Linked DNA regions of Homo sapiens. The protein of the gene in region 2 purifies or fractionates together with the protein of the main gene of each other region. This does not show direct contact. Each region holds a gene or a part of one and is shown on either strand. Other genes may lie near its edges.

The links.
Region 1: the proteins of COQ10A (region 2) and ALDH1L1 purify together in Homo sapiens (co-immunoprecipitation; one large-scale study listed by IntAct). This does not show direct contact.

The regions. Positions count from the first base shown.
Region 1 is NC_000003.12:126,170,161-126,175,008, reverse strand, and holds part of ALDH1L1 (cytosolic 10-formyltetrahydrofolate dehydrogenase), read left to right. Parts: intron 1-4,848. UniProt on the Homo sapiens protein: Cytosolic 10-formyltetrahydrofolate dehydrogenase that catalyzes the NADP(+)-dependent conversion of 10-formyltetrahydrofolate to tetrahydrofolate and carbon dioxide.
Region 2 is NC_000012.12:56,263,860-56,269,741, forward strand, and holds the start of COQ10A (coenzyme Q-binding protein COQ10 homolog A, mitochondrial), read left to right. Parts: upstream 1-3,082; 5' UTR 3,083-3,259; coding exon 3,260-3,393; intron 3,394-3,466; exon of another isoform or gene 3,467-3,536; coding exon of another isoform or gene 3,537-3,574; intron 3,575-3,934; coding exon 3,935-4,081; intron 4,082-5,199; coding exon 5,200-5,392; intron 5,393-5,600; coding exon 5,601-5,702; intron 5,703-5,882.

The sequences.
Region 1 (4,848 bases), on a different chromosome or scaffold from region 2:
TAGTTAACCTGGCTAGAGGTGTCTCAGTTTTATTCATCTTTTCAAGGAACCAGCTTTAGGTTTTGTTGATTTTCTCTATTGACAGCATGTTTTCAATTTCACAAGTTCTGCTGTAATTTTTATTATTTCCTTTCTTCTGTTTATTTTGGATTTAATTTGCTCTTCTTTTTCTAGTTTCCTAATTTGGAAACTTGCTTTTAGCTCTTTCTTCTTTAATAATATATGCATTCAGTGCTCTAAATTTCCCTCTAAACACTACTTTAGCAGCATCCCATAAATTTTGATGTTATATTTTCATTTTAATTTAGTTTGAAATATTTTAAATTTTTTCTTGAGAGTTATTCTTTGATTTGTTTACATGTTGTTTAGAAGTGTGTCATTTAGTTTCCATTTTTTTAATGTTTTTCAGATATCTTTCTGTTATTGATTTCTAGTGATTCTGTTGTGATCTCAGTAATCTCCATCATAGAAGTCATTGATATTTGTTGTTGTATGTTTTATGGCACAGAATGTGGTCTGTCTTGATGAATATTCCATGTGAACTTGAGAAGAATGTGTATTCTGTTGTTGTTGGGTGAAGTATTCTCTAAATGCCAATTAGATACACTTAATTGATGGTGCTGTTCAACTATGTCCTTACTGATTTCCAGCCTGCTGGATCTATCAGTTAGTGGGTACTGGCCAGGCACGGTGGCTTACGCCTGTAATACCAGCACTTTGGGAGGCCGAGGTGGGCAGATCACCTGAGGTCAGGAGTGCGAGACCAGCCTGACCAACATGGAGGCTCTACTAAAAATACAAAATTAGCCGGACGTGGTGGTGCATGCCTGTAATCCTAGCTACTCGGGCGGCTGAGGCAGGGGAATTGCTTGAACCCGGGAGGCGGAGGTTGCAGTGAGCCGAGATCGTGCCACTGCACTCCAGCCTGGGCAACAAGAGTGAAACTCCGCCCCCCCAAAAAAAACGTTAGTGGGGACTGACAGAGAGGTGTTGATGTCTCCAACTGTAATAATAGTGGATTCATCTATTTCTCCTTAAAATTCTGTCAGTTTTTGCTTTACACATTTTAGCACTGTTGTTAGGCACATACATATTAAGGAGTATTATGTCTGCTGGGATAATTGACTCCTTTACCATTATGTAGTGCTTCTCTTTATTCCTAATAATTTTCCTTTCTCTGAAGTCTGCTTTATCTGAAGTTAATAGAACTACTCCATATTTCTTTTGATTAGTGGTAGCACGGTATATCTTTCTCCATCCCTTTATTTGTAACCTATCTGGTTTTTATGTTGAAATGGGTTTGTTGTAGACAACATATAGTTAGGTCACGATTCTTTATTCACTCTAGATAGTCACATGTTTTAATTGGTATATTTACACCATTGATATTTGAAGTGATTTTTTGATATAGTTGGATTAATATTTACCATATTTATTACTGTTTTCTATTTGCCCTTTGTTTCTTTTTTCTTCCACACTTTTTTCTGCCTTTTCTGATCTTAACTGAGCATTTTATATGATTCCATTTTCTTTTCTCTCTTAGCATATCAGTTTTACTTTTTTGTTGTTGCTTTTTTAGTGGTTGACCTACAGTTTGCAATATACACTTAAATCTAATTTAAGTCTGCTTTTGAATAACACTATACAACTTTATGGGTAGTGTAAGGGCCTTATTGCAGAGTATTCTTGATTCCTCCCTCCCATGCCTTATTATTACTGCTATCATTCATTTCACTTATCCATAAGCTACAATCACTGAATACATTGTTGCAATTATTATTTTGAACAAATTGTTATCTCTCAGATTAAGAATAAGAAAAAAAATTATTTCACATTTATTTCTAATACTCTTTTGTATGTTGAGTTTCTGACTTGTTTAATTTTCCTTTTTTTCTGAATTACTTCTTTTAACATATCTTGTAAGGCAGTTTACTGGTGACAAATTCCTTCAATTTTTGTTTGAGAAGTCTTTCTCCTCCACTTTTGAAGGACAATTTTACTGCATACAGATGGAATCTAGTTAGTTCTAAGTTGATGGAATGTTTTCAGTTCTTTAAATAATTCTTTCTATTCTATTCCTGATTGCATGGTTTATGAAGAGACGTTTGATGTAATCCTCATCTCTCTCCCTCTATAGGTAAGGTGTCCTGCCCTGCCTCTCCCTGGCTTCACTGAAGATTATCTCTGTGTCTTTTATTTTTTGCAGTTTGAATATGATATGCCTAAGTATAGATTTTTTGGGGGGTGGGGGGTGATCTTTATCCTATTTGGTTTCCTCTGAGCTGCTTGGATCTTGGTTTGGTATCTGTCTTTAATTTTGGAAAATTATCAGTCATTATCACTTCAAACATTTTTACTATTCCTTTCTTTCTTTTTATTCCATCTGATATCCCTATTACAAGGATTTACACCTATGGCAATTGTCCCACCATTCTTGGATATTCTGTTTTGTCTTTTTTATTCTATATTTCCCTTTGCATTTCAGTTTGGGAAGTGTTTGTTGATATTTCATCCATCTCATTGATTATTTCCTCAACTGTATCCAGTCTATTGATAAACCTATTAAAGACATTCTTTGCATTTATCACAGGGTTTTTATTTCTAGACTTTTTTTGATTTTTTTCTTAATTTCCATCTCTCTGCTTACATGACCAATTTGTTCTTATATGTTCTCCACATTTTTCCATTAGAGCTCTTAGCATTTTAATTATCATTGTTTTAAATTTTCCATCTGAAAATTCCAACATTGCTTCCATATCTGATTGTGGTTTAGGTGCTTGTTTCATCTTTGCAAACTGTGTTTTTGTCTTTTATATATCTTGTAATTGTTTTGCAGAAAATCAGATATAATGTATTGGGTAAAAGGTACTGAGGTAGATAGGCTTTTAGTGTGAGGTTTGATATTTACCTGTCTAGGAGTTAGAATGTGTTTACTATTTGCTATAGCTGTGGGTATCAGAGGATATAATTTTCTCTCTTCATCTTCTTGTTTTTGTCTACCCTGTTGTCTTTGGGTTTTTGTAGAAACTCCTTAAATAGGCTCTGGCTTGCAGTTCTCTTATCCGTAATCCCCTTGTTACTATACTGGAGCCCTGTGGATGTAGTAGCAAGGTGTTTTGGTGGGGGGAAGTGTTTTACAGTCCTACAATTAGGTCTTAGTGTTTCAGTGAGCCTGCACCCCTGGGCTGTGACCTTCACAAGTGTTTCTCAGTCCTACCCCTTTTAGGTGATGAGAAAGGCTAGAGGGGCTGGATTTGGGTTTTTCCTCATCACTTAGGTTAGTTAGGCCCTGGGTGTCCATTCACTTAGGCTCTGGTATAATAGTTTCTATGAGGGTAGATATGTTGAGAAAAAAATGACTGCTTTCCTTGCCTCCTGCCAAAACCAGAAGGGGATTTTTCTCCAATCCTTACTGTGAGAACTGTAAGAATTAAAGAAAGAGGAAAGAAATACAAAAGCTGGCTTGCCAGTTAAGACATTTATTTTAGAGAAAATCAACCTGAAAGGAGCCTTCTGGCCAAGTTAGGTCAGAGGCACACTCTCTTACAGACTGAGTTTTTAAGGATTCAGGATGGGAGAGTTTATCAGAGGCTTGGACTGCTTCTGTGTCTCTTTGTTGTGCTTATCTGGGAGGGAGAGTTGTGTGCCTGTTTTCATACATTTTTCCTGCAGCTGCAGGTATAGTCCCTGAGTCTGTTTTTACTTATTTATTGAGACAGAGTCTCGCTCTGTCGCTAGGCCGGAGTGCAGTGGCGCCATCTCGGCTCACTGCAACCTCTGCTTCCCAGGTTCAAGCGATTTTCCTGCCTCAGCCTCCTGAGTAGATGGGACTACAGGCATGCGCCACCACGCCTGGCTAATTTTTTGTAGTTTTAGTAGAGACGGGGTTTCACCGTGTTAGCCAGGATGGTCTTGATCTCCTTACCTCGTGATCCGCCCGCCTCGGCCTCCCAAAGTGCTGGGATTACAGGCATGAGCCACCGCGCCCAGCCAAGAGTCTGCTTTTAGCTTTCCTGTCTTAGTGCCCCTGAAGGAAAGGGAATGTGCTTGTTCCTTATTATTAAGGCCCACTGTTTTACTGGGGCCCATCGTATGAGGGTGAAGTTTGGCAGTTACCCAAGATACTTTCCCCCCACCTCCCTTTGTGTCCCAGCTGTCTTATCCGTGTTTTACTGTCTGCTCTTTCTGGCTGCTTGTAGTTAGAAGAGAAGTGATTTCCTTGAAATGCATGAGGCTAGAAAGGGAGCTGGAATTTAAAGTGGCGGTGTTTGTCTGAGATGACAGTACTCCTGCTCTATCATTCCAGACCCTATGGTTATAAAAGGACAAGAGGGGACATGTTCTTTCTAGCTACTTCCTGCTGATGCGGGGGTGGAGAGTTTTTTGGTCTTAGATTGACTGTAGGATCAACACCATTTGTAGATGTTTTTGGGTAGTTGCGAAATGGCCATGATTCTGTCGGTTAAAAATTTTTGATAAAGGTTAATTAGGCAGAGTAAAAACATTAGTCCTAGGCTTTTCAGCAGCATTTTTTATTAGGCCCGACTGGTTGAGACAGAAGTAACTTTTTTTTTTTTTTTTTTTAATGACAGGCAGAGGTGCATGTTTGGAAAGACCCATGTGTTATTTTTTGTTAGTAACTGTTATTCCTGCTATGAGGATAATAATTAAGCAAAATGCTACAGTAATTGAGATTCTCTGTCAGATATTCCACTCTGAGGGTTCACAGTCCTACTGCAAATAGTAGAGTGAGTACAGCAGTTCCCGCGAGGGTGTCATAGTAAATAATTTTCATTAAAAAAGGTTTTAATAGTTGGCTTAAAAGGAGAAGTAGAAACGACAAAAAGT
Region 2 (5,882 bases):
TAGAAATGGGTTTTTGCCACGTTGGCCAGGATGGTTTTGATCTCCTGACCTCATGATCCGCCTGCCTTGGCCTCCCAAAGTGCTGGGATTACAGGTGTGAGCCACCGTGCCCGGCCCAAGAGCTACCCTGTTTCTAGACCAGATGTCTCTTCCAGATTAGTTGGACAAGAATTGCAACACAGTCTTTTTTTGTTTTTGTTTTTGTTTTTCTGAGACAGGGTCTCACTCCCGTCACACAGACTGGAGTGCAGTGGTGCAATCACGGCTCACTGCAGCCTCAACCTCCTGGGCCCAGGTGATCCAACTCAGACTCCCAAGTAGCTGGGATTACAGGCATGTGCCACCATGCCTGGCTAAATTTTTTTGTATTTTTTGTAGAGACAAGGTTTCACCATATTGCCCAGGCTGGTCTCAAACTCCCGGGCTCGGGTGATCCACCAACCTTCACCTCCCAAAGTGCTGCAATTACAGATATGAGCCACCATGCCTGGCTACAACACAGTCTTTATTTACTTTATCCCCTGCCCCTCTGCATAACCACCACACACAACACTTCTCAGGGAAAGATTTCCTGAAAGTGGAGAGCTTGACTGAAGATTTAGAAAGCAAGCAGAGGAAAGGCTTGTACTGTAATAGCATGAATTTCTTAAAACTCAACAGCAGGCACCACCATTCTCTTGCACCCACCTAGTTCTAGTCTCTCTTTTTTTTTTCTTTTTTATTTTTGGAGAGACAAGTTCTCACTATGTTGCCCAGGCTGGTCTTGAACTCCTGGCCTCAAGTGATCCTCCCACCTCAGCCTCCCAAAGTGCTGGGATTACAGGCATGAGCCACTGCACTTAGCCCAATCTCTTTCTAATTGTTGATTTCTTTCTTCCCTTCCTTTTTTTCTTTTGTTTGCCTGACTTTTTTTTTTTTTTTTTTTTGAGATGGAGTCTTGCACTGCTGCCCAGGCTGGAGTGCAGTGGTGCGATCTTGGCTCACTGCAAGCTCCGCTCCCCGGGTTCATGCCATTCTCCTGCCTCGGCCTCCTGAGTAGCTGGGACTACAGGTACCCACCACCACGCCCGGCTAATTTTTTGTATTTTTAGTAGAGATGCAGTTTCACCCTGTTAGCCAGGATGGTCTCGATCTCCTGACCTCGTGATCCACCCACCTCGGCCTCCCAAAGTGCTGAGATTACAGGCATGAGCCACCGCACCTGGCCCACCTGACTTTTATCAAGAGCATTTTTTCTCTTTCTTGCTCGCTTGCTTTCTTTTCTTTTCTTTCTTTCCTTTTTTTTTTTTTTTTTTTTTTGAGATGGAGTCTTGCTCTGTTGCTCAGGCTGGAGTGCAGTGGCACAATCTCAGCTCACTCCAACTTCCGCCTCCTGGGTTCAAGCGATTCTCCTGCCTCAGCCTCCCGAGTAGCTGGGATTAGAGGCGCCCGCCACCATACCTGGCTAATTTTTGTATTTTTAGTAGAGATAAGGTCTCACTATGTTGGCCAGGCTGGTCTTGAACTCCTGACCTCAAGTGATCTGCCCGCCTCAGCCTCCCAAAGTGCTGGGATTACAGACGTGAGCCACCATGCCTAGCCAAGAGCATTTTTTTTTTCTCCTTGAATCATGAAAAGTAGTATAGTGGTATTTAATTGCGTGGGTTTCTGTCCATGAGGTCTCACTCTTCATCAAGCGCACACTTTTCAAACAAAGATGGTTCTCTGTCCTAAGAATATCTGGTTCTTCCTACCTCGACTTCTTTCTATAAATATTAAAGGTAAAAACTATGCAGTCTTAGCCCAGAGCTTGGAATGTTAATCTCCTTTCCCAAAAATGTAGAACACAGCACTAACCACTTGTGGAAGCTACAAAGATGAACAGTGCTTCTAACTATAAACAAGGCCGAATATGATAAAGGCTCTGTGATGATTGAGTGTCAACTTGATTGGATTGAAGGAGGCAAAGTGTTGTTCCTGAGTGTCTGTGAGGGTGTTGCCAAAGGAGATTAACATTTAAGTCAGTGGACTGGAAGGAAGTGACCCAGTCTCAATGGTGGGCACCATCCAATCCGCTGCCAGCGACGCTAGAAAAAGTAGGCAGGGCTAGGCATGGTGGCTAACACCTGTAATCCCAGCACTTTGGGAAGCCGAGACGGGTGGATCACCTGAGGTCAGGAGTTCGAGACCAGCCTGGCCAACATGGCGAAACCCCATCTCTACTAAAAATACAAAAATTAGCTGGGCATGGTGGCGCATGCCTGTAATCCCAGGTACTGGGGAGGGGGGCGGGGCGGGGGTGGTGAGGCAGGAGGATCGCTTGAACCTGGGAGGCCAAGGTTGCAGTGAGCTGAGATCGTGCCACTGCACTCCAGTCTGGGCAACAGAGCGAGACTCCGTCTCAAATAAATAAATAAATAAATAAATAAATAAATAAATAAATAAAAGTAAAAGTAGGTGGAAGAAGCTGACTTGCTGAAGTCTTCCGGCCTTCGTCTTTCTCTCATGCTGGATGCTTCCTGCCCTCGAACATCAGACTCCAAGTTCTTCAGCTTTTGGACTCTTGGACTTACACCAGTGGTTTGCCAAGGGCTCTCGGGGCTTTGGCCACAGACTGAAGGCTGCACTGCCGGCTTCCCTACTTTTGAGGTTTTGGGCCTTGGACTGATCCACCACTGGCCTCCTTGCTCCTCAACTTGCAGACGGCCTAATGTGAGACTTTACCTTGTGATCCTGTGAGGCAATTCTTAATAAACTCCCTTTCATATATACATTTATCCTATTCACTATGTCCCTCTAGAGAACCTAAGGCTCTAACAGCGACGTTCAGAGGATCTACAGATATCTGCGGTAGACACGCCCACGAAGTCGCCTCTGTGCCTACCTATCGGGTCCTGTGACCACAGGCGACCTCAGTCCCCGAACCATCTTTGCAGCTTCTCAAACGCACACCCCAGTGCCCTTTCTCGCCACAGGTGTGAAACTACATCTCCCGACAGGCGGCGTTGTCCCCTTCCTTCCTTCCTTCCTCTCCCAGGCCCGAGCCATGGCAACAGCGTGACGTGGGGGTACCGAGATCTGCGGGAGCAGCGGTCCCGGCTTCAGTTCTAGCCTACCCGGCAGCCTGGACGGGAGCAAGGCGAGAGGTGCTGCCGCCTCCCGTCGCCCCTGCGCTCAGAGGTCCCGAACCAGCCCAGCCGCTGCCTCTTGCCGCTCCGCCTTTGGAGTGAGGAGGGCGCAGCCCGCGTCAGAACTTAGAGGGCCAGGCAGGGTCGCGCGCATGGCCTGGGCGGGCTCGCGGCGGGTCCCAGCTGGGACGCGCGCGGCAGCCGAGCGCTGCTGCCGGCTCTCGCTCAGCCCGGGCGCGCAACCGGCCCCGCCCCCAGGCCCTCTGCCACCGCCGCGACCAATGAGGTGAGAGGGAGGTGACCGCGGCTGAGGGCAGGGGGTCGCTGCGAACCCCGGGGTTCCGCGGTGGAGGGGTGCTATACTGGGATGCAGGCGCGGCGGGGACTGGCAGCAATCATGCCCTGGGAGCTAACGTAGAGCTTTGGATAATGCTTTTGCAAGTTGTACGAGAAGGGAAGTTCTCGGGGTGAGTGTCCAACCTCTTCTTGGCCCTCGCGGGCGCCCTGGGGTCCCCGGGGACAGTGATGCTTCCTTAAAGTCTTAGCTTTCAGCAGTAGTGTAGGCCCAGTCAAAGGCAACTGGCGCTTCCCACACACCCCTTTTTCTCATCCCCCTCACCCCGCCCCCAGCCCTGTCCTTAGCTGCCCTCGACCTTTTGCACTCGTGACTCCCTGGCCAGAGAGAGCCTAGCGGGCTGCAGCAGGTGCTGGGGGGAAAGCTTGTTTGGACGACCTTCGTCTGGGATGCACTCTTCTTCTCCTTCACCTACAAATGATAGAGGATTACGAAGAACTATACGGTTGGCTCCTCTTTCCTTTGGCCTTAGGTTTCTGACCTCCTGCAGCCTCCTCTTGCCTCGGGCTGCCCAGATCTTGGCGGCTGAGGCTGGCTTACCTTCGAGCCGTTCCTTCATGGGATTTGCTGCTCCCTTCACCAACAAGCGAAAGGCTTACTCGGAGCGTAGAATCATGGGGTAAGCATTCTCTGCCTTGCATCCTTGCACCTCCCTTTTCCCTCCAAATAACCCTGTCCAGGCAAGAATGTCAGGGTATCATCGGTGGGCAAGATTCATCCCTAGCCATCCCCCTCCCCAGCTACAATACTGATCCTCAGTCCTCCCCTGCCACTCTTCCGACCTTAATTTCTCCCTTCTTGGTTGCTGTGCATGTGCTTAAGTGAAATGAGACTAGGGTTGGACTATACTTTAAGACAACAGGGCGTAGCTGGGTGCGGTGGCTCACGCCTGTAATCCCAGGACTTTGGGAGGCTGAGGCGGGCCGATCGTTTTAGGTCAGGAGTTCGAGACCAGCCTGGCCAACATGGTGAAACCCTGTCTCCACTAAAAAAAAACACACACACAAGAATCAGCCTGGCACGGTGGCGGGCGCCTTTAATCCCAGCTATTTGGGAGGCTGAGGCAGGATAATCGCTGGAACCTGGGAGGCAGAGGTTGCAGTGAGCTGAGATTGCCCCACTGCACTCCAGCCTGGGCGACAGAGCAAGACTGTCTCAAAAAACAAAACAAAAAACAGGGTGTATTTTTCTGGTGACCATTTAAAAATAATTTTTATGGGTACCTAGTATGTGTAAATTAGCAGCGTAACCTTTTTAGTATATTTTGAGCATAATAGCTAAATTATCGAGCACTTGCTACATGCTAGCAGCTTGACTTAGATGTTTTACATAGATATTTCTCATTTAATTCTCACAACAAACCTATAAATCAGGTGAGAAAATGGAGACACAGGTAATTTACCTAAGGCCACATTGTTAAAAAATTGTTAAGAGCTGGGATCTGATCCTTGTGTGATCACCAGTAAAACTGACAGCCTCTGTTCTCCCTAGATGGTCCCTCTTAAAATCAAAATAAACAATGAATGCAAAAGCATTCTGTAAACTGCAAAATATAAGGTAACAGTATCATAAGGATTTACACGTTTGCTTTTGGGAAGTTATTCATCCAGGCTTATTTGGGATCTGTAGTTCCTGAAGGTGCGTGGTTAGTGGGCAAAGGTATGAATTAGGGGCCTATAGCAAGGAGGAACCTGACCCAGCTGGCAGCTCCTTGGCCTGTGATTCTTCTTCTCCTAGGTACTCAATGCAGGAGATGTATGAGGTGGTGTCCAACGTCCAGGAGTATCGTGAGTTTGTGCCCTGGTGTAAGAAGTCTCTGGTGGTATCCAGCCGTAAGGGTCATTTGAAAGCCCAGCTGGAGGTTGGCTTTCCACCTGTCATGGAACGTTACACCTCTGCAGTTTCCATGGTCAAACCTCACATGGTCAAGGTGAGGCCTGTATGGGAGGGATTGACAAGATTTTTTGTTTTTAGCAGTTTCATATGAAAGTGCTATTTTGGCCTTCCTTGTAAGTACTTTATGTCCATGTGTCAAGTATTTCCCTCATATCAGAAAAGAAGGAAAATGGCTTTCAATTCCTTTATATTGTATCCTATACTTAGTAATGTTATTTAACTACCTGATTACCCTATTCTAGGCTGTTTGTACTGATGGCAAGCTCTTCAACCACTTAGAGACTATTTGGCGATTCAGCCCTGGTATTCCTGCCTATCCTCGAACCTGCACTGTGGACTTTTCGGTGAGTCAGGAGGTTGTGTAGCAGAGGACGAGGACTGGGTATGAGGAAGGGCTGGGGTACTGTGACAGGGTTATTAATTTATTTGAGATGGAGTCTTGCTCCGTCACCCAGGCTGGAGTGCAATGGCACGATCTTGGCTCACTGCAACCTCCACCTTCTGGGTTCAAGCGATTTTCCTGC